Homo sapiens: one gene and its partner. Changing the gene in region 1 together with any one later gene gives a genetic interaction. Each region holds a gene or a part of one and is shown in the gene's direction. Other genes may lie near its edges. The genes, in order: MAP1B and MARCHF5.

Region 1 (9,386 bases):
TGTTACAGCAACAGAAAATGGACAAAAGTAGTGCTCTCATCAGGAGGAAAAGCAAGGGAAAGCCTGTGTTGGAGGGAAGGATGGTTTGGCACAAAGTCATTGTGGCTGATGCTGGAAAGTAAGGGCAAGTGGAGGGGCCAGATGAAGCTGCTGAGATAAATGGGGACCAGCTTGTAGGTGACACTGAGAAGTCTGGTCTTTATTCTAAAATGGGGAGCCATTTGTGTTTTAAGTGGAGATGGGGCAACAAAACCAGATCAGAAAAGATCATTCTCCATATTGTGTGAAGCATGGATTGGGTGAGTCATTGTGGATATACAGATGCCAGTAAGGTGACTATTGAGGTTGCATGGGAAAAAAAAATAGCTAGACCTACTGTTTACAATATAAATTAAACTGGAAATAGCTCAAATGTTCACCAACAATGGACTGGTTGAGTAAATTATAGTAAATAAACATAATGGGTTACTATGCAGCTATAAATAAAAATGAGGAATATTAACATATATTATTGTAGCGTTATAGCCGGGATATAGTGTTTGATGAAATAAGCAAAGTGGAGAAAATTGTATGTATATGCTGCTACTTGCATTTTTAAAGTGAAAGGCTAAATCAAGGTAAAAAATTGTTACTCACAGGAAGAGACAGGGAGAAAGCTGGAGGGGACAGGGATAGAGGCTAAAGTTCTCCAAATACAAATTGTTTTGTAGATTTCACCTTGGAACCATGTAAATATTTTACATTACTATAAAGCAAAATTAAATTGTAAAAATCAATTCATAAAAACTGAAAACAAAATGAAACAAATGAACATAACTATGCACTGAGTTAGTGGCACGATCATATATAACAGAATTAATTACACTTTAAAACTATATAGCTTAGGCTGGGCACGGTGGCTCACACCTATAATCCCAGCACTTTGGTAGGCTGAGGCGGGCAGATCATCTGAGGTCAGGAGTTTGAGACCAGCCTGGCCAACATGGCGAAACCCCATCTCTACTAAAGGTACAAAAATTAGCCAGGCATGGTGGTGGGTGCCTGTAATCCCAGCTACTGAGAAGGCTGAGGCAGGAGAATCGCTTGAACCTGGGAGGCAGAGGTTGCAGTGAGCCGAGATGGCGCCACTGCACTCCAGCCTGGGCAACAAGAGTGAGAATCGGTCTCAAAAAAAAAAAAAAAAAAAAAACAAAAACAAAAAAAACAACCAACCAACCAAACAAACAAACAAACAAAAAAACTATATACCTTAAAATGTTTTTAGTAATCACATTGTTGGCAAAAGTGTTGCATTCGTATCTAAAACTACCATGAGGGTAATTTGTATATATTGTGGAACAAGAAAAATGAGAAACTATCTGCTGTTCTAATTCTGTCACCTTGGAGTCTTTGAAAACTGGAATTCTAGGCATAGGACAAAGGAAATACAGATGCAAGATAAAACGTTAGGCAAAATCCCTGTAGTCCCGATTCTGAGTTAGAGGTATAAGTATGAACTCATACTTGAAAAACAATTTATTTCATATTTCTGTCCACTGAAAATATCTAGAAACAATGATCAAAATAGTAGTAGCACCTGGTATACAGGGGTCTCCAAATACCATTACCCACGTAAGGAACTTGGATTCCATAGAGAAACGGCTCATTCCAGGTTCTGAGGCCAGATATGTGCAAGGTAAGCTAGGGATACCTTACCATACTACTGGCCAAAGATGAAAAAATGAAAGCATCAATATGAATAATGTAAGTTATATTTGTAATGATACAAAAAATTAGTCACCTTTAGAGAATGATTTGGAATAAATTAATTATTTTGAAAATCAGTAAATAAAGAGAAAAAATCATTTGTTTATCCTTCTTTTCCTGTACATACCGTACCTCAGGGTAATCAACTGACAGGATAACGCTTCTCCTAACAGAAGTCTTCTAGCTGTCAAATAAATAATAACAAAATTAGAATATTATCATTTTTTCAATCCATAGTGAAATAATGGATCTAGGTAATGATCATCAATAGCTGCTAAAATCACAGAATGAGGGTTAACTAGTCTTTAGGTGCCTTCTGATGGAAGATCACAATATTACCTATGAAGTATACATGTAAAAAATATCAAATCTGCATCTGATCAAGACTTTAGTTCTCTCAGAAAATTCAGAAGATAGAAGAACATGTTAAATAACACAACAGGTGATGCAATCGGCAAAATTTATGCTTTGTGAAACTCTGCTGAACAATGTTGCCACTATTCAACAGAAAATTACAAGGAAAAAAATAGCAGGATTACATAGATCAAAGGAGTTTAAGACTGATGAATCAGTTGAAATATATAGACATTATTTCAATCTTGATTTAAAGAAGCAAACTATAAAAATCTATGGATTGGGGATAATGGGTATGTGGGTGTTACTTACATTATACTCTCTCTGTTTGAAATTTTCCATAGTAAAATGTTAAACAATAACAGCCAAAAACAACTAACCCCATACCAAAAACAACTAATCCCTATTAAGTGCTCATTATATGCAAGGCACTGTTTTAAGTAATTTGCATATTTAAACTGTCCTCCTGTCCATGAGGTCGGTACTCATCTCTACTATACAAATGAGAAAACCAAGGTATAGAGTGGTTAAGCACCTTGCTTAAGGCCACACAGCTAATAAATTATGGTATTAGGATTCAAAACCAGGCAGTCTGACTCCAGAACCCATTTTCTAACCGGTACACTAGTACCTATCACAATGATGCTAGCTTGGACTAGGTTGGTGATAATGGAGAAACGTGGATGGATTGAAGAGATACTGAAGGTGAAATTGACCAGACTCCATGCTGGATTGCACACGAGGCTAAGGGTCAGGGGAGAGTCCAAAATATTTGTGAGGTTTTGGTTTGCATCATGGGATACATGGTGTTATGGTTCATTGAAATAACAAGAATGAGAGAGGATCCCGTTTAGAGGTAAAAGATGATTTGGGTTTGGAGCATGTCAAGATTCTGGTGCCTTTGGTATATCCAGGTGATGTCAGTTGAGCAGCTGGCAATATTGGTGCTCTTATATGTTAGTTTTCCCCCTTTTTCCTCCTTAGAACTGTATACATTTTCTTGGGATGAAGAGGGGAAGGGGCTACTTTTCTAGTATTGAAGTATAATAATGTAATATTCTGTTCTTGTTTCAGAGGTGTTGTAGCAGTATCACTTGCACATTTTATAAGACTGCTTTTGCTCCATTGTCTTAGTAACTGGGAGAAAACAGGTCAATGAATCAACCATCCCTTGATTGCTTACTATGCCCAGCCACTGTATTAGGTGCTTACACATTCTATCATTTCCTTCTTTCTTACAGTTACTTTAACAGTTATAAAGATGTTCTTCTTCTCATTAAATAAGGAGATGGAAGATCAAAAAGAGTAAGTCACTTGCCAAAGTTACCGAGCTGTAAAGTAGTATTCTGCATCCCTAGTCTGTGTTCTCCCATTATGCCTCTATTTTTCAAAGTGTGGGTGATGACTTAGGTGGTCACGGTCATGGTGTTTAATTGCACAGACACACACAGTAAGAAAGCGCTCTGTTATAATTTTCATCCAATCTTCTGTTGCAACATGGAGAACAACTCAGTTAGGTGTTAGTATCTCTTTAATACCTCTCTAACACTTGGCCAATCTCTGTTTTCAACCAAGAAAGGAGAGCCTTGGACTCAGAGTCTTGAGCAAATCATAACAGTATGTAGCAGGAATTTGATCACATCTTATCTTCATTGTGTATATTTTTAGGGATACTTTCTATTAATAAGTGATATTAGTGTTTCCATTTATACAGCAACATAGAATTGCATTTAAAAATAAATTTAAGTAAAAGAAATAAACTGCATAAAAGAAAACTATTACATACATAAAAGTAACAATGGTTCAAAGAAAGGAAAACCAAACACAAACTAGATGAGGCTGGAATCCAACGGATGACCTTTAGAAAACAGTGCTCTTCACCATATTTCCTGCCCCTCACCCCAGTTATGGGCTTTGGTGCTGGCCTTACTTCTTGAACAGCAATTGAATATCTTAACCAAAATATTATCTGGAAACACTTCATCTAGTTACTGGTGAATGCAGCTAGTTGGAAACACTTCATCTAATTACTGGTGAATGCAACTCTCTAGTGATCCTGTCACAGATCCCAAATACTGCGGGCCAGACGGTATTTTCATTCTGCATTGATCAGATTGACATGTTGGATGGAACCCCCCAGCCCTTGGCTGCCCAGCATGTCTCCCATGCCAGGGTGTCAGGAAAGATATAAGAGCAAAGAGTACATGACCAATAAGTCATGGCAGCTAACACCTAAGACACTGGGTTATTTTGGAAATCTTAAGAATATCTAGGTGATTATCTATCTATCTATCTATCTATCTATCTATCTATCTATCTATCATCTATATTTTACTAACAGGCATTCTAGTATTAAAGCTATGTTGACTAATTTCCATCTATTCCTCTTCCTTAAAGCTCGAATTCCCCAGTCTTCTATGATACCATGTTTGCACATTTTGCTCTTTCCTCACCCTCCTCCCCTTTTCTGGGACAGAAGCTATATTCAGTATGTTTGTGAGAAACGGTTGTAAATAGGCTGCCTTAAAAAAAAAAACAAAAAAACAAAAACAAAAAACACATTTTTTAGTTCTTCTAAACACAAACAAAGGCAATAAAAATTCCCAATGCTACAGGTATTTTAAAAGACATCATTGTCACGAGGTAATTTTGCTTGTGTGTTCCCCAAGGAACTGAAAAGTACATTATAGTCACTGTAACCCTGCTGAGTAGAGACAGTATCTTCTCTTTATTCTTTGTTATTACTGATACTATCTGTTCAGCACATTAAGGAAAGAAATTGGTATCTAATATAATACATCTGCATTTCTCTCATTTCCCATGAGCACCACAAAGCCAGTACTTTTTCATCCTTGGCCCTGCCAGAGTAGAATCCAAGGCCTGAACAATAGTAGGCTTAAGTTTTGCATTTTTGATGTATTCTTTAAGTGAAGGTGGTAAATATTGATATTGGTAAATATCAGTAAATTCGTCTTCTTAAAGCCACAAGGTCAAAGAAAAGACAGGTTCCGTCTTCCTAGGCGGGGTACCCACAGCCCCGCATCTGCCCACTGTGGCTATCCCAGTTCCTGAGAACCTGGCTACATCATACACAGCACACAAGGCAGAGGCCTGACTAGTGCAACTCCAACAAGAGAAAAGACCCCCACTCCGAAAATGGAAACTCATCCCATTCCCATGCACAGACAGGGTGAGGGTGAGGAGTGGGCAGTGGGTGTGTACGTGGTGGGTGGTGTAGGTTGAGAGCGTCTTCCCCCTTCACGGCTGCAGCAGGAGCTCAGCGGGCGCCCCAGCCCCTTGGCTCGCGGCCCTGCCCCGACCATTGTCCGCACACCTCGTCCCTCCAGCTTCCGGGCCGCGGGCGAGATGATTTGCTGCAGATGACATCAGCCCCGGGCCAACGGCTGGAAGAGCGGAGGCAGCCACCGCGTGAGGATGTGCCGGGTGGTCCTTTCCTCCTCCTCTTCCTCCTCCTCCCGGCTCCCTGCCTAGTCTCCATATAAAAGCGGCGCCGCCTCCCCGCCCTCTCTCACTCCCCGCTCCTCTCCGCCGCGCACTCTCCGCGGCGCTGGGAGAGGGCGGAGGGGGAGGCGGCGCGCGGCGCCAGAGGAGGGGGGACGCAGGGGGCGGAGCGGAGACAGTACCTTCGGAGATAATCCTTTCTCCTGCCGCAGTGGAGAGGAGCGGCCGGAGCGAGACACTTCGCCGAGGCACAGCAGCCGGCAGGATGGCGACCGTGGTGGTGGAAGCCACCGAGCCGGAGCCGTCCGGCAGCATCGCCAACCCGGCGGCGTCCACCTCGCCTAGCCTGTCGCACCGCTTCCTTGACAGCAAGTTCTACTTGCTGGTGGTCGTCGGCGAGATCGTGACCGAGGAGCACCTGCGGCGTGCCATCGGCAACATCGAGCTCGGTAAGTGGCCCCGCGCCCCCAGAGACGCGCGCTGGGAGACGCGCAAACACGACCCCACCCAGGGCGCGACGGTCACTGCGCTCCTCCCGCGCGCCCCGCACCCATGCCTCTCCTCGTCACCTCTCATACTTGGTCCAGACCCTTTCTGGGCTAATTAAGAATAATCCGAATTATTAGATATGAGACCCAGAGGGAGAGTCTCCAATAACCTTGAGGGATCTGTCACCACGCTGAGTCCGCAGCCTGTGCTGAGTTGGCCACCGCCTCTCCCGCTAAGTGAAATGCAGGTGTCAGGGGAGCAGAGGCCACAATAAAGCCGCAACCGCAGGAGGCAGAAGGGTGGGGGAGACCTGATGCAACCACTCCTTTCAGTCCTCTTCTGGCCTCAGGAAAAGGCTGGGACCCCCACCACCGCAGACCTGGGGCCGAAGCCCATGTGCCAGGGCCCGCGTGGGATTCATCCTCACCACGGCTACCTCAGCCCCTGAGAAACGCCTTTTCTGATTTCAAACCTCCCGATCCTTTCTTTCCTCAGAATGACTAGGCTAGTCCTAGGGCCACGCCCGCTCCCCCCGCCCCCCCCTCCCCGGGGAGATGCTGGGATGCAGAACCGCCTGCGCTTCGCCACCAGACAGAGCCCGCCTCGCTACCGCCCTTGGGGCCTTGGCTGCAGCTCTCAGAAAGGACAATGGGACCCCAAGTTGCGGGGTGGGGCTGCTGCTTTTAGAAGTCCCAGCCTCGGGAGTGGTAGCTTGAAGGGGGTCGGTGAGGGAGACGTCAGCGGGTAGGGTCAGCTCCTCGCCCGGTGCTCGCACCAGTGGCGCGCTCTGCGGAGGCCGAATAGCGGTACGCCGGGGACCCTGGGCGGGGCCGTGAGGGTCCGGCGGGCACAGCCTCGGGCGCACAGAGAGACCGCCCCCAGCCCCACCCGAGCTGCCGCAGTGCCTCCGGACCGCCCGCCACACCTGCCCCCCCACACTGCGGCGCCCCCGTCGGGCACGGCTGGCTGGGCTTGCGCTCCGCCCGGGCCTCGGGCTGGCGGGGGCCGCGCGCCCCCACCTCTCAGTTTGCCTGGCTTTGTTGCCCTGGGAGTCCCTGGGTGGGCAGCTCTGGTCTCTGCCTTTCCCTTTATCCCTGGCGTCCCGGCCCTCCCCTCGCTCCTGACAGAGGTCGCCGGGTCCCTCCGCAGCCCCAGCCCGCGCTCTATTCTCCTGGGGTGGTGCTGAAGCGTTTCTCCGGGAGACACCGGTTGGTGGGCGTGGTGCAGTCCGCACTGCGGTCTCTACGGCAGCCCGAGGCGGACAAAGGGCGTTCACGCAGCCCTCGTTCCCCACTCCCCCTCCCCAATAAAAGACGAAAGAAAAACCTTGTTTTAGATGAAAAAATAAATGCTTGTCATCTGCCTCTGCAGTTGGAAACGGCCACTTGTCCCCAGAACAAAAGGCTGCAGGGTGGGGACTGGAGTTGCAGACCTGGTTCTTTTGTTTAACTTTAAAGCACTTGATTTTCCCTTTTAGCTTAAAAAAAAAAAAGAAAAAAAATGTGAGCAGAAAGTCATAGTATTTTATTCCAAAAAATTCAAGAACAAGAGATATTTCAGTAGTGAAATGTCTTATTTGAGCATCTCAATAACCCTTCATTTTCAGACTATATAGGCCTTTGGTCTAATCTGTTCTAATTTAGTTTATTTGCACAATTTTCTCCTGGAAAAATTTTACACATACTGACTTTGGGTGTGGCTATTGTGGGAATCAATGACTTTGGATTTTTTTCTTTAAAAAATTATTTGTAAGTAGCATTTCTGGGAAATAGGAATATATTAGGAGGTGCTTTTCTATCTACAAAATCTTCATAACCATTCGATGTGGTGGTGCTAGGAGAGGGATCATCAACCCCGTTTTAGAGCTGGGGGCCCAGAGAGGCAGGAAGGGTAAGAGAACCGGCTCAAGGTCACAGCACTCATAAGTGACAGAAGTACCAGTACTGCAGCGTCACTCGTTTTCTGACCCTGTCATGATGTTAGTGCAGGGTTGGCTAACATCCTATGATGGGAGGAAGGTTTCAGTACAACAGTTTTCAGGGCTTGCCTTTGTATGGCCATCCACTTGTGGGCAGCGCCCCATGCTGGGAGATGGTTCAGCAATCACCTTCGGATCGTAATTATCTTCCTGCTTTGTTACTCATCTGATCATCCTTTCAGCGCCCTATTCCTCAGAGGGTTTATACAAGCTGCATCTATTTATGGAGAAAACAGACGCATCCACGTACTGCTATGAAGAAGGGCTCCCTGCCTTTACTCGTTTTTACACTACTAGCACTTAGTGACAAAATTCAGATTTGTCTTCTTGACATTAATTTTTTAAAAAATTCGGTTGAAGTATTATATAGAGAGGAAAGGGCACAAATCAAAGATGAGCAGCTCAACGAATTTTCACAAAACGGACACGCCTGGGTTACCCAGATCAAGAAACAGACATTACTGGAACCCCAGAAGCCCCCTTGTGTTCCCTTTGCAATAGACATCATGGCTTCCTGATTTTTTAATTCCCTAATTTGGTCAGGTTTTTGCATGGAACTCCGAAATGACTGTATTGATCCCATTAAGAATCAACCAAGTGAGTGAGCAGAGCCGTTTCTTTACACACCGTAGCAGATGCTGCTTTTCCTCTGAAGATGGCTCTCCTGGGTTCTGGGGTCTTGGCTGCAGCTCAAGATGCAGGCCCTTCCAGCGCTAAGTGAAAATCCTGCTCCCATAGCTTTTCAGACAGTCTGAGATGACTTAGCAACAGAGCAGGCTGGTCCTGTTTTCCTGTGCACGACAAGCTGCTGCTTCAGCCGCCAGGTCTCAGCTGGGCCTCCTCCAGAGGCCACTGCTGTTGTTGCTTGGTGCCTTTGGGCCTTGTTGTGTGAAGCAAGATGGAGCTGCTCCAGGGGGGCCAGCTCTGATGATTGTGTGTTGCAGGCTGGGAAGGCAGTTCCGCATCTGTTACTCTTTCTTCCTATTTCCCCTCCTGCCTTAACTGAGATTCTGGGTTTGGAGACCCTGGCGACTTGGATTCTTGCCATCCGATTACTGAGGGCTCTCTGGGAAGCCTAGAAAATAATCTATAAATCTGTAGAGACATGGTGGTAATGCAGTAAATCAACAGGCCTGGAACGTCCCAATGTGGATGCTTCGTAAATGCCTCTTGAAACCAGGGAAGAGAGATGGTCCCTCTTGCTTTCTCAACTATATTCGGAAAGCATAATGAAAGCTTTGGACATGTCTCCTCCAGAGTTTGGAACAATAGTGTTTCCTCGGACTAGGCTAGCTTCATTTATTTAGTTATGCAGGACTTTATTCCAAATCGTTTTCGCTACCACCAACTACTACTC
Region 2 (9,140 bases), on another chromosome or scaffold:
TGCTTTTTTCTTTTTTTTTTTTTGAGAGGGAGTCTGTCCCCAGGCTGGAGTGCAGTGGTACAATCTCGGCTCACTGCAAGCTCCGCCTCATGGATTCACGCCATTCTCCAGCCTTGGCCTCCCGAGTAGCTGGGACTACAGGCGCCCGCCACCATGCCCGGCTAATTTTTTGTATTTTTAGTAGAGACAGGGTTTCACTGTGTTAGCCAGGATGGTTTCGATCTCCTGACCTTGTGATCTGCCCACCTCGGCCTCCCAAAGTGCTGGGATTACAGGCGTGAGCTACCACACCCAGCCTGCTTTTATTTTTCTAAATATAAACATATTTAGGTATGTAGATTGTATGCCTCTGAAGGGTAGCTATAGGCCAGGCACAGTGGCTCATGCCTGCAATCTCAGCACTTTGGGAGGCCAAGGCAAGTGGATCACTTGAGGTCAGGAGTTCAAGACCAGCCTGGGCAACATGGAGAAACCTCATCTCTACTAAAAATACAAAAATTAGCTGGGCGTGGTGATGCATGCCTGTGATCCCACCTACTCAGGTGGCTGAGGCATGAGAATCTCTTGAACCTGGGAGTGGGAGGTTGCAGTGAGCTGAGATGGCACCACTGCACTCCAGCCTGGGCAGCAGAGCAAGACTCTATCTAAAAAAAAAAAAAAAAAACATAGGTATAGTTATAATTTGCTACTAGCATACCTATGCATATATTTTCTGGAAACACCTGCTGAAGGAATTAATGAAAAAAAAACTTTCTGTAGCTTGGAATGAGGACTCAGCCTGCAGTTTATCACCAAATTTGGCAATTGACAGTTCTCCTTAGAAGGCACCTAAAAATATTATACCATTTCTGTAACGAATACTCCAGGCCCCTTTATGGTAGACAGTTCAAAACAAGTATGATGGAAGAACATTAGAGTGGTATATTATTTTAAATTTTCTGACATATTTAGAGCAGCTCATACTCAGTTATCTCTAAATCCATTACAGAATTATTAAAATAGTGGTGTGCGCCTATAATCCCAACTCTTTAGAACTCTACATCATCAAGCTTTGTTCTTGTCCTCTGAACTTGGGAGAATCTTTAAATATTTTCTGTAGGTTAATTTCTATTTCAAAATATATCTCTGAGGAAAAAGTTGTTTTTGTCTATAGTCATGCTGGTTACTCTCTTGGCTGAATATCATTTATCATAGACTTTTTTTTTTTTTTGAGACGGAGTCTCACTCTGTTGCCAGGCTGGAGTGCAGTGGTGCGATCTCAGCTCATTGCAACCTCCGCCTCCCAGGTTCAAGCGATTCTCCTATCTCAGCCTCCTGAGTAGCTGGGACTACAGGTATGCGCCACTATCATAGATTTTCAACCCTACATATAAATGCAGGAGTGCATTTCAATGTGGTTTTGGTCAGATTAAGGTCTTAATAATCTAGACTTTTTTCCTTCAAAATCAGAGAATATATTGTAATTCCAATTATTCTGAGTCTTATTGGAAAATGTAAGACCACAAAAAACAAAGCTGACAAACAATATTGAAATTCACACAATATGTGTCACCCATTTCAAATGTTAGGATTAATTTATTTTCTGAGTTTTATCAATCACTATTTTTGCCCATACTAATAAGAAACAAAGTTGATAATAAAGAATTATCAGTTATCTGTTTATATGCTTCTTTTCAGATACCCTTATGAACATTTTCTGTGGAGCTAATTACTCTTTTAAAAGCTTTATTGAGATGTAATTTATGTAACATTAAAATTCACCCCTTTTAAGTGTACAATGGGTTTTTGAGTATATTTACAGTTTTGCCACTATTACCATAATCTAATTTTATCTTATTTGTGATATAATTCACAAAATTATATAACCAGAACCATTATCTAATTCTAGAATACTTTCATCCCTCTAATAAGGAACCTCATACTCATTAGCAGTCACTCCCCATTTCTCCCCAACTCCTTCAGCCCTATGCAATCACTAGTCTACTTTCCGTCTCTATGGAGTTGCCTATTCTTGACTTTTCATGCAAACAGAATCATACAATATGTGGTCTTTGTGACTGGCTCCTCTCACTTGGTATAATGTTTTCAAGGTTCTTTCATGTTATAGCATGTATCATAACTTTATTCCTTGTTTTCTCCTAATAATATTCTATTGTATGATACACCACATGTGGTTTATCCATTCATCAACTGGTGGATATTTGGGTTTCCACTTTTTGGCTATCAAGAATAATGCTGTAGGCCAGGTGCTGTGGCTCATGCCTGTAATCCTAGCATTTTGGGAGGCCGAGGTGGGAGGATCATTTGTGCTCATGAGTTCGAAACCAGCCTGGGCAACATGGCAAAACACCATCTCTACAAAAAAAATTTTTTTAAGCCAGACATGGTGGTGCGCCCCTGTAGTCCTAGCTACTTGGGGGGCTGAGGCAGGGGGAGTGCTTGAGCCCCTGAGGCTGAGGATGCAGTGAGCTGGCGCCACTGCACTCCAGCCTGGATGACAAAGCGAGACTCTGTCTCAAAAAAAAAAAAAAAAAACCCAGAATAATGCTGCTATGAACATTCACAAACAAGATTTTGTGTAGACATGTTTTCATTTCTCTTGAAAATACCTAGAAGTGGAATTACTGGGTCACATGCTAATCACTCTTTAGACCAGTAACAGGATTTTTTTCTACTTTAAAAGGTTTTTGACACAGCCAGAAAGCTGATTTTTCATAAAAATGCAAACATAAAATCCATTTGTTGGTATAATAAGGTCAAGGTGCACAAGTCTTTGCTATCAACAAAAGGTATCATATTTTCCAATTTCAGTTGAAACAGACATTCTAACATTGGTTAAGATCTTAGAATCTTGGAGTTTGTACTAGTGTACTTAATCCATATGCTGGGATAAAATTCTGTTTTTAAGCAGGAAGTATATATCCAACTCCCATGGCTGACAACTGCTTAAGAAATAAGTACACAATAAGGTTAGACTGACACAGCACAAGGAGCAAAAAATAATAATTTAAAATGTTAAGACACCGGGCTGTGCACGGTGGCTCACATCTATGATCCCAGCCCTATGGGAGGCCGAGGCAGGCAGATCACCTGAGATCAGTTCAAGATCAGCCTGGTCAACATGGTGAGACCCTGCCTCTGCCAAAAATACAAAAGTTAGCCAGGCATGGTGGTGCGAGCCTGTAATCCCAGCTACTCCGGAGGCTGAGGCACGATAATCACCTGAACCCGGAGGAGGAGACTGCAGTGAGCCAAGATAGTGCCACTGCACTCCATCCTGAGCAACACAGCGAGACTCCGTCTCAAAAAAATAAAATAGACCAGGCGCGGTGGCTCGCCCCTGTAATCCCAGCACTTTGGGAGGCCGAGACGGGCTGATCGCCTGAGGTCAGAAGTTCGAGACCAGCCTGGTCAACATATAGTGAAACCCCATCTCTACTAAAAAACACAAAAATTAGCTGGGTGTGGTGGCACACACCTGTAGTCCCAGCTACTTGGGAAGCTGAGGCTAGAAGGATCACTTGAAGTCAGGAAGTGGAGCTTGCAGTGAGTCAAGACAGCGCCACTGCACTCCAGCCTGGGCAACAGAGCAAGACTCCATCTCTCAAAATCAATGAATTAATTAAATAAATGAATTAATTAAATAAAATATTAGACACTGGTCACATGCGGTGACTCACATCTGTAATCCCAACACTTTGGGAGACCAATGCGGGTGGCTCGCTTGAGCCCAGGAGTTGCAAGACCAGCCTGGGCAACATGGCGAGACCGCGTCTCTACCAAAAAAAAAAAAAAATATATATATATATATATATATATATGTATTATATATTATAAATGTATATATGTATTATATATTATAAATGTATTATATATTATATAATACATATATATTATATATAATACAAATATATATAAAATATTAGACACCCCGATTAAACTAAATACTCATTTTCTTTCCCTAGGAGGAGTGTGTGTGTATGTGTGTGGTGGGGGGGGGTGGGTGCTGTTTCTCAAAAACATATTTCAAAAATTGGAGGCCAAGTAAGCTTCTGGTCACATTTTTTGGGTTTGTTGTTTTTTCCCAGCAATGAACACTCTAGTTCAAATATACTTCGCAAATTTTGAACAGATAATGAAAAGTTGATTGTAAAATTCTACATATAAAAAGAGCTTTAAAAACACATTTTCATTTTTTAAAAAATCAAACACCTTGTAGCAGATATTAGACATAATCAAGGGAAAACTACCAGCGTCCTACCAATCACAGCCCTAGAGAAAACGCCACAGGTCGTCCAAAAAACGCATTCGTTTGAGCCGACAGCTCTTTCCTCCCGCCAAAGCTATCCCTCGAACGTCAGAAGCTGACCCAAGGAGTGACTGATGATTTCTCCTTTTTGATTCCCCACCCCCGCCACTCCCAATCCACCTGCTTGAAGGTGTCAACGCGACTAGAAACGGTTAACAGTGACCAGCAGCAGAGAGAGAAACAAACATCCCTGACAACCCACAGCTGAGTAAGCAAGAGCTGTTTATTCACCAACGTGTTCCATTTGGAGACTGTCGGCGAGCCCTGGAAAGCCCAGGCACATTTGAGAAGGTTCCTGGAGAGGGAGAGAATCATCTTTCCTTCCCCCAACTCCCCAGCCCCAAACACACAGAGAGACTCGGGTGGAAGCTGTCTGGTCCAGGCAGTCCCTATTTGCCCGCCCCCTCAAGAAGAACCTCACGCACCAAACCAACCGACCCCTCGCGGAGGTGGTGTAATTCCCCCAAAATGGGCTCTGCCGCAGGAGAGGCTGGCTCCAGCGCCGGGGGCTTCGGAAGGAGTTTCTGCCACCCCCACTGCCGCCACTGACCGCCCCGACGCCACGGCCGGGGCCGGGGACCCTGATAAGAAATGGCCCTTCAGCCCCCTCCCCTCACCTGGCTCGGTCCCACCTGAGGGCAAGAGCGGAGGCAAAAACAAACAGGCAGGGAGGGCTGACCTTGTTGCTACCGACAGTGGAGCGGCGCATCCTGCTGCTTCCTGGAAAGCGGCCCGAAAGACATTTTTTCCCCCTGGAGGAAGGAAACGGGAGGGCGCCGGCCAGACGGCGGCAGGCGCGGAGGCGTTGGTCCGGGCGGGCTGTGCAGCCTCTAGTGGAGACGGTCCGAAGACTACATCTCCCAGGCTGCTCTGGGCCGCCCTGCGTCGTAACCCTGGCGCGCACGGAGGCGGCGACTCTTACCTCACAAAGGTAGCTCCTCCGCCGGCAGCAACTCGGCGCCCGCGGTCCATGGACCGGAACCTCGGGCCGACGGACGGGAACCCGGGCCGCGATCGCCGCCTCCCCGCCTCAGGCTCCTCCTCCTCGCTCTCCGCCGCCTCCGCCGGACTCCCGCAGGCCCTGCACCGCCGCCGCCAGGCTAGCGGAGCTGCCCCGGGAAGCTGGGTGACGGGTTCGCGGCTGCCGCCGGACTGCGGCCTACTCCGCCGCCTCTCAGTGCTATTGTCCCTGGGCCTGGCCTTGAGCGGGTCCACTGGGGAAGGCCGTGTGCGCCGGCTCCGCGGAAGATGCCGGACCAAGCCCTACAGCAGATGCTGGACAGGTACGGGCAGCTGTGGGGGGGACCGGGAGCCGCCGACCCTCGCTCTGGCCCTGCCCGCGCCCGCCCTCGAGGCTCTTGGTGAGCAGAACCCGGCGTGCCGGGAGGAGTTCCACGGCCAGGGGGCCGTGAGAGGGGCAAAAAGTTTGGAGTCTAGACCTGGGGGAGGACAGAGCGAGCGGCCTGGGTCGTAGACTTTGGGTGAAACTTAGCTAAGGAGTGGCGTCTGGTTTCCTTGGAACCCCGTTTTGACCTGAGAGGGACTCCTGTTAATCCACAAAATTAGTTTTCCTTACCCTCTTCCCCTCCCCCTTCCCCCTCCCCAACTTGTGAAGTGTTTGTCAGCGATGTCACTGGCAAGAACCGGGTTATCTTTCAGGGGAATGACCCCCTTATAATTTTAAGTCTCTGTCTGAGAACCAATGATAAGCATTCTTTTGGAAAGCCTGATAGGCTGATTTCATTCTCCCACTTTCCCTGAACCCGCACCCCCCGTCCCCCCCGCCCCATCCCGTCCCCACCTCCGAACTGTAAGGTCAGAGTATCCGCAAGGGAGATTTAACGGTCAGACCAGAGTAGAGGTTATGGAAAACAGCCAAATGAGTCCAACGCTGAACATTTAGTGTACTTGACGATCGTTGAGTTCATTGAAGACGTTTCAGCTCGTACAGGAGTCCAGTTGCCCATTCTTGGGGGGCCCCAGTCGGTAAAACTCTTTGTGAAGTCGGGTGCACCGCCCTCTGCTGTTGAAATTCTGGTCCGTGGGTCCTACCATGAGTTTTTGGAGACTCTAGATCCACATTTCCCCCGAGCCAAGTCTTACTTCCTGGCATAGCAAGTTGTACAAGCTAATTCATGATGTTTGTGGTTGCTTACAATTCTCAATAGACACCACTTGCCACCCATTTCAGCAGGTGGTACCAACTCTTTGTACTCAGTAAAATTCCAACTGTAAGGTGTTAAATGAAGGCCCTCCCTTAATTGAGTTTATACCCAGTTAAATGCTTTTGGGCCTGCCACACCCAGAACACAAATGACCCAAGGGTACACATCCTTCCAGAGTGACAGACATTTTTTTGGAGCTTAGAATTTTGAGCCATCTCAGTTAATAGGAATTATGTCACTGATTTTTTTCAGTTGAGATAACTGGTGATTCATCCAGCCCTTGTTTCAGGTCAACATCCTGACAATTGTATTGACTGCTTTATATATATATGTGTGTGATATGTGTGTGGTTTATAAGCTCTTGGAAGCAGAAACTTACTATTGTTTATCTTGAATCCCAGAACAGAGCCTGGTACTCAGTAGGTAATCAGTAAGTATTTGTTGTATGAACTAATGCACAAACTTATTTGTCAGTTTCCCCAGTTGTCTAGGGGGTCTGATAATTTACCAGGTTTTCCTTTCATTGTAAATTGGCAAATTGTGGCAAATTAAAATATGCCCAGAGGAAACCACCTGCCACTGCCAGTTCTATTCTGTTGAGACCCTGTTCTGATGTGGGGTATTTTGTAGTTAATTTTTTTCCTTTGAGGGCCTCCTGCTTTTCATTTTTACATAGTGACTTTTTTTCTTCTTTTTTTGAGACAGGGTCTCTGTTGCCCAGACTGGAATGCAGTGGCAGTGGCAGTGGCATTGGCATGATCTCAACTCACTGCAACCCCCGCCTCCCAGGCTCAGGTGATCCTCCTACCTCAGCCTCCCTAGTAGCTGGGACCACAACACATACCACCATGCCCAGCTAATTTTTTGTATTTTTATAGAGCCAGAGTTTTGCCATGTTGCCTGTGCTGGTCTCAAACTCCTGGGCTCAAGTGATCCTCCCGCCTAGCCTCCCAAAGTGCTGGATTGTCAGGCATGAGCCATCGTGCCCAGCCTAGAAAAGTTCTTATGTCCAAAAGCTGACCTAACTTTTCATATGCTCTTTGGATATTTCCATAAAAGTAAGAAGCCAAAGAGTGAGCCTGGGCACGGTGGCTCACCCTTGTAATCCCAGCACTTTGGGAGGCCAAGGCAGGCAGATCACTAGAGCTCAGGCCTTTGAGACCAGCCTAGCCAACATGGTGAAACCCTGTCTCTACTAAAAAAAAAAAAAAAAATACAAAAATTAGGCAGGCGTAGTGGCGTGGGCCTGTAGTTCCAACTCTCGGGAGGCTGAGGCATGAGAATTGCTTGAACCTGGGAGACGGAGGTTGCAGTGAGCTGAGATCGCACCATTGTACTCCAGCCTGAGTGACAGAGTGGAACTCCATCTCAAAAAAAAAAGCTAGTGAGGCATTTAAAACTTATTAACAGAAATGCGAAGATTCTGGCTGCCATTTACTGAAGTAGGTGACTATGACACTGGCTTACTCTCATCTTTGTACTACTCTCATCTTTGTACTCTTTTGACATACCTTAAGGTAGATTTTTAACATGACTTTCAAAGACCGTTATTGTCTAGATTAGTAGTTGGCAACCTACTTCCATGTTAGAATTACCTGGGGAGCATTTCAGAATATGCATGGATGCTGGACTGTAAGACCAATAAGATCAAAAATTTCTGTAGGGTAGAGCCTGGGCATCTATATTTTAAAGCTTTTTAAATGTTTTAGATATGGCAGAAACCTACTGCCCTAAGTCCTAAGTCAGTGATATCTTTCATGATAAGAGATAGTAGGGTATAGTGAGTAAAGCTTGGGCTCAGAGATAGAAAGTATGAAATTCGAATTTTGCCACTTACTAGCTATGTGACTTTGAACTTAGATTCTGACACTATGTATATTATCATTTATAAAATGAGAACCCTACTTCACAGGGCTACAGCAAATGAAACATACATCTCTATAAAACAGCAAAACACTCTATGTTAGCCAAATAGAAGGCACTTAAGACTAATGTAAACCAGTTTGGCCATTTTTCCCCCATCTACTTTATGTTTACAGCTTTCTTCACCTGGGCTGGCCCTACTGCAAGTTGAACACAAAGATACTCAACATGGTTCACTTGAGGAATACCAACAGGGCCAAGAGACTAAAATATGTCAGCCTATTAGGACCCAGAATTCTTTTCATGAATTTGGCTTCTCCCCAACCTGGTTTTTGGTGGCAATTTTTGAGGGACAGAATTTAGCTCAGATAACTGTTCATTTGTTTATTTCTTTAATGCAGGTTTTATCTTCGTGAAGACTAAGGAACTGTGTGTTACATATTGTTCTGTTGCTTTTAGGTTAAGTTACGTATTTTATTTAGGCCAGGCACAGTAGCTCATGCCTGTAATCCCAGCACTTTGGGAGGCCGAGATGAGAGGATTGCTTGAGCCCAGGAGTTAGACACCAGTGTGGGCAACATGGCAAGACTCAGTCTTTACAAAAATGTTAAAAATTAGGCCAGGCCTGGTGGCACATGCCTGTGGTCCCAAATATTCAGGAAGCTGAGGTGGAAGGATTCCTTGGGGGTCGTGGCTGTAGTGAGCTGTGTTTGTGCCCCTGGGTACTACAGCCCAGGTAACAGAGCAAGACCCTGTCTTAAAAAAAAATGTTATTTTTCAGTAAATCAATTATTAAACATTTA

Evidence for each region.
Region 2: of MAP1B (region 1) and MARCHF5, a change in one rescues a mutant of the other (synthetic rescue), as found in Homo sapiens cells (one study listed by BioGRID).

The regions. Positions count from the first base shown.
Region 1 is NC_000005.10:72,101,705-72,111,090, forward strand, and holds the start of MAP1B (microtubule-associated protein 1B), read left to right. Parts: upstream 1-5,770; 5' UTR 5,771-5,827; coding exon 5,828-6,011; intron 6,012-6,220; exon of another isoform or gene 6,221-6,890; intron 6,891-7,070; exon of another isoform or gene 7,071-9,386. UniProt on the Homo sapiens protein: Facilitates tyrosination of alpha-tubulin in neuronal microtubules. Phosphorylated MAP1B is required for proper microtubule dynamics and plays a role in the cytoskeletal changes that accompany neuronal differentiation and neurite extension.
Region 2 is NC_000010.11:92,285,938-92,295,077, forward strand, and holds the start of MARCHF5 (E3 ubiquitin-protein ligase MARCHF5), read left to right. Parts: upstream 1-5,229; 5' UTR 5,230-5,557; coding exon 5,558-5,592; intron 5,593-9,140. UniProt on the Homo sapiens protein: Mitochondrial E3 ubiquitin-protein ligase that plays a crucial role in the control of mitochondrial morphology by acting as a positive regulator of mitochondrial fission and as an important regulator of immune response.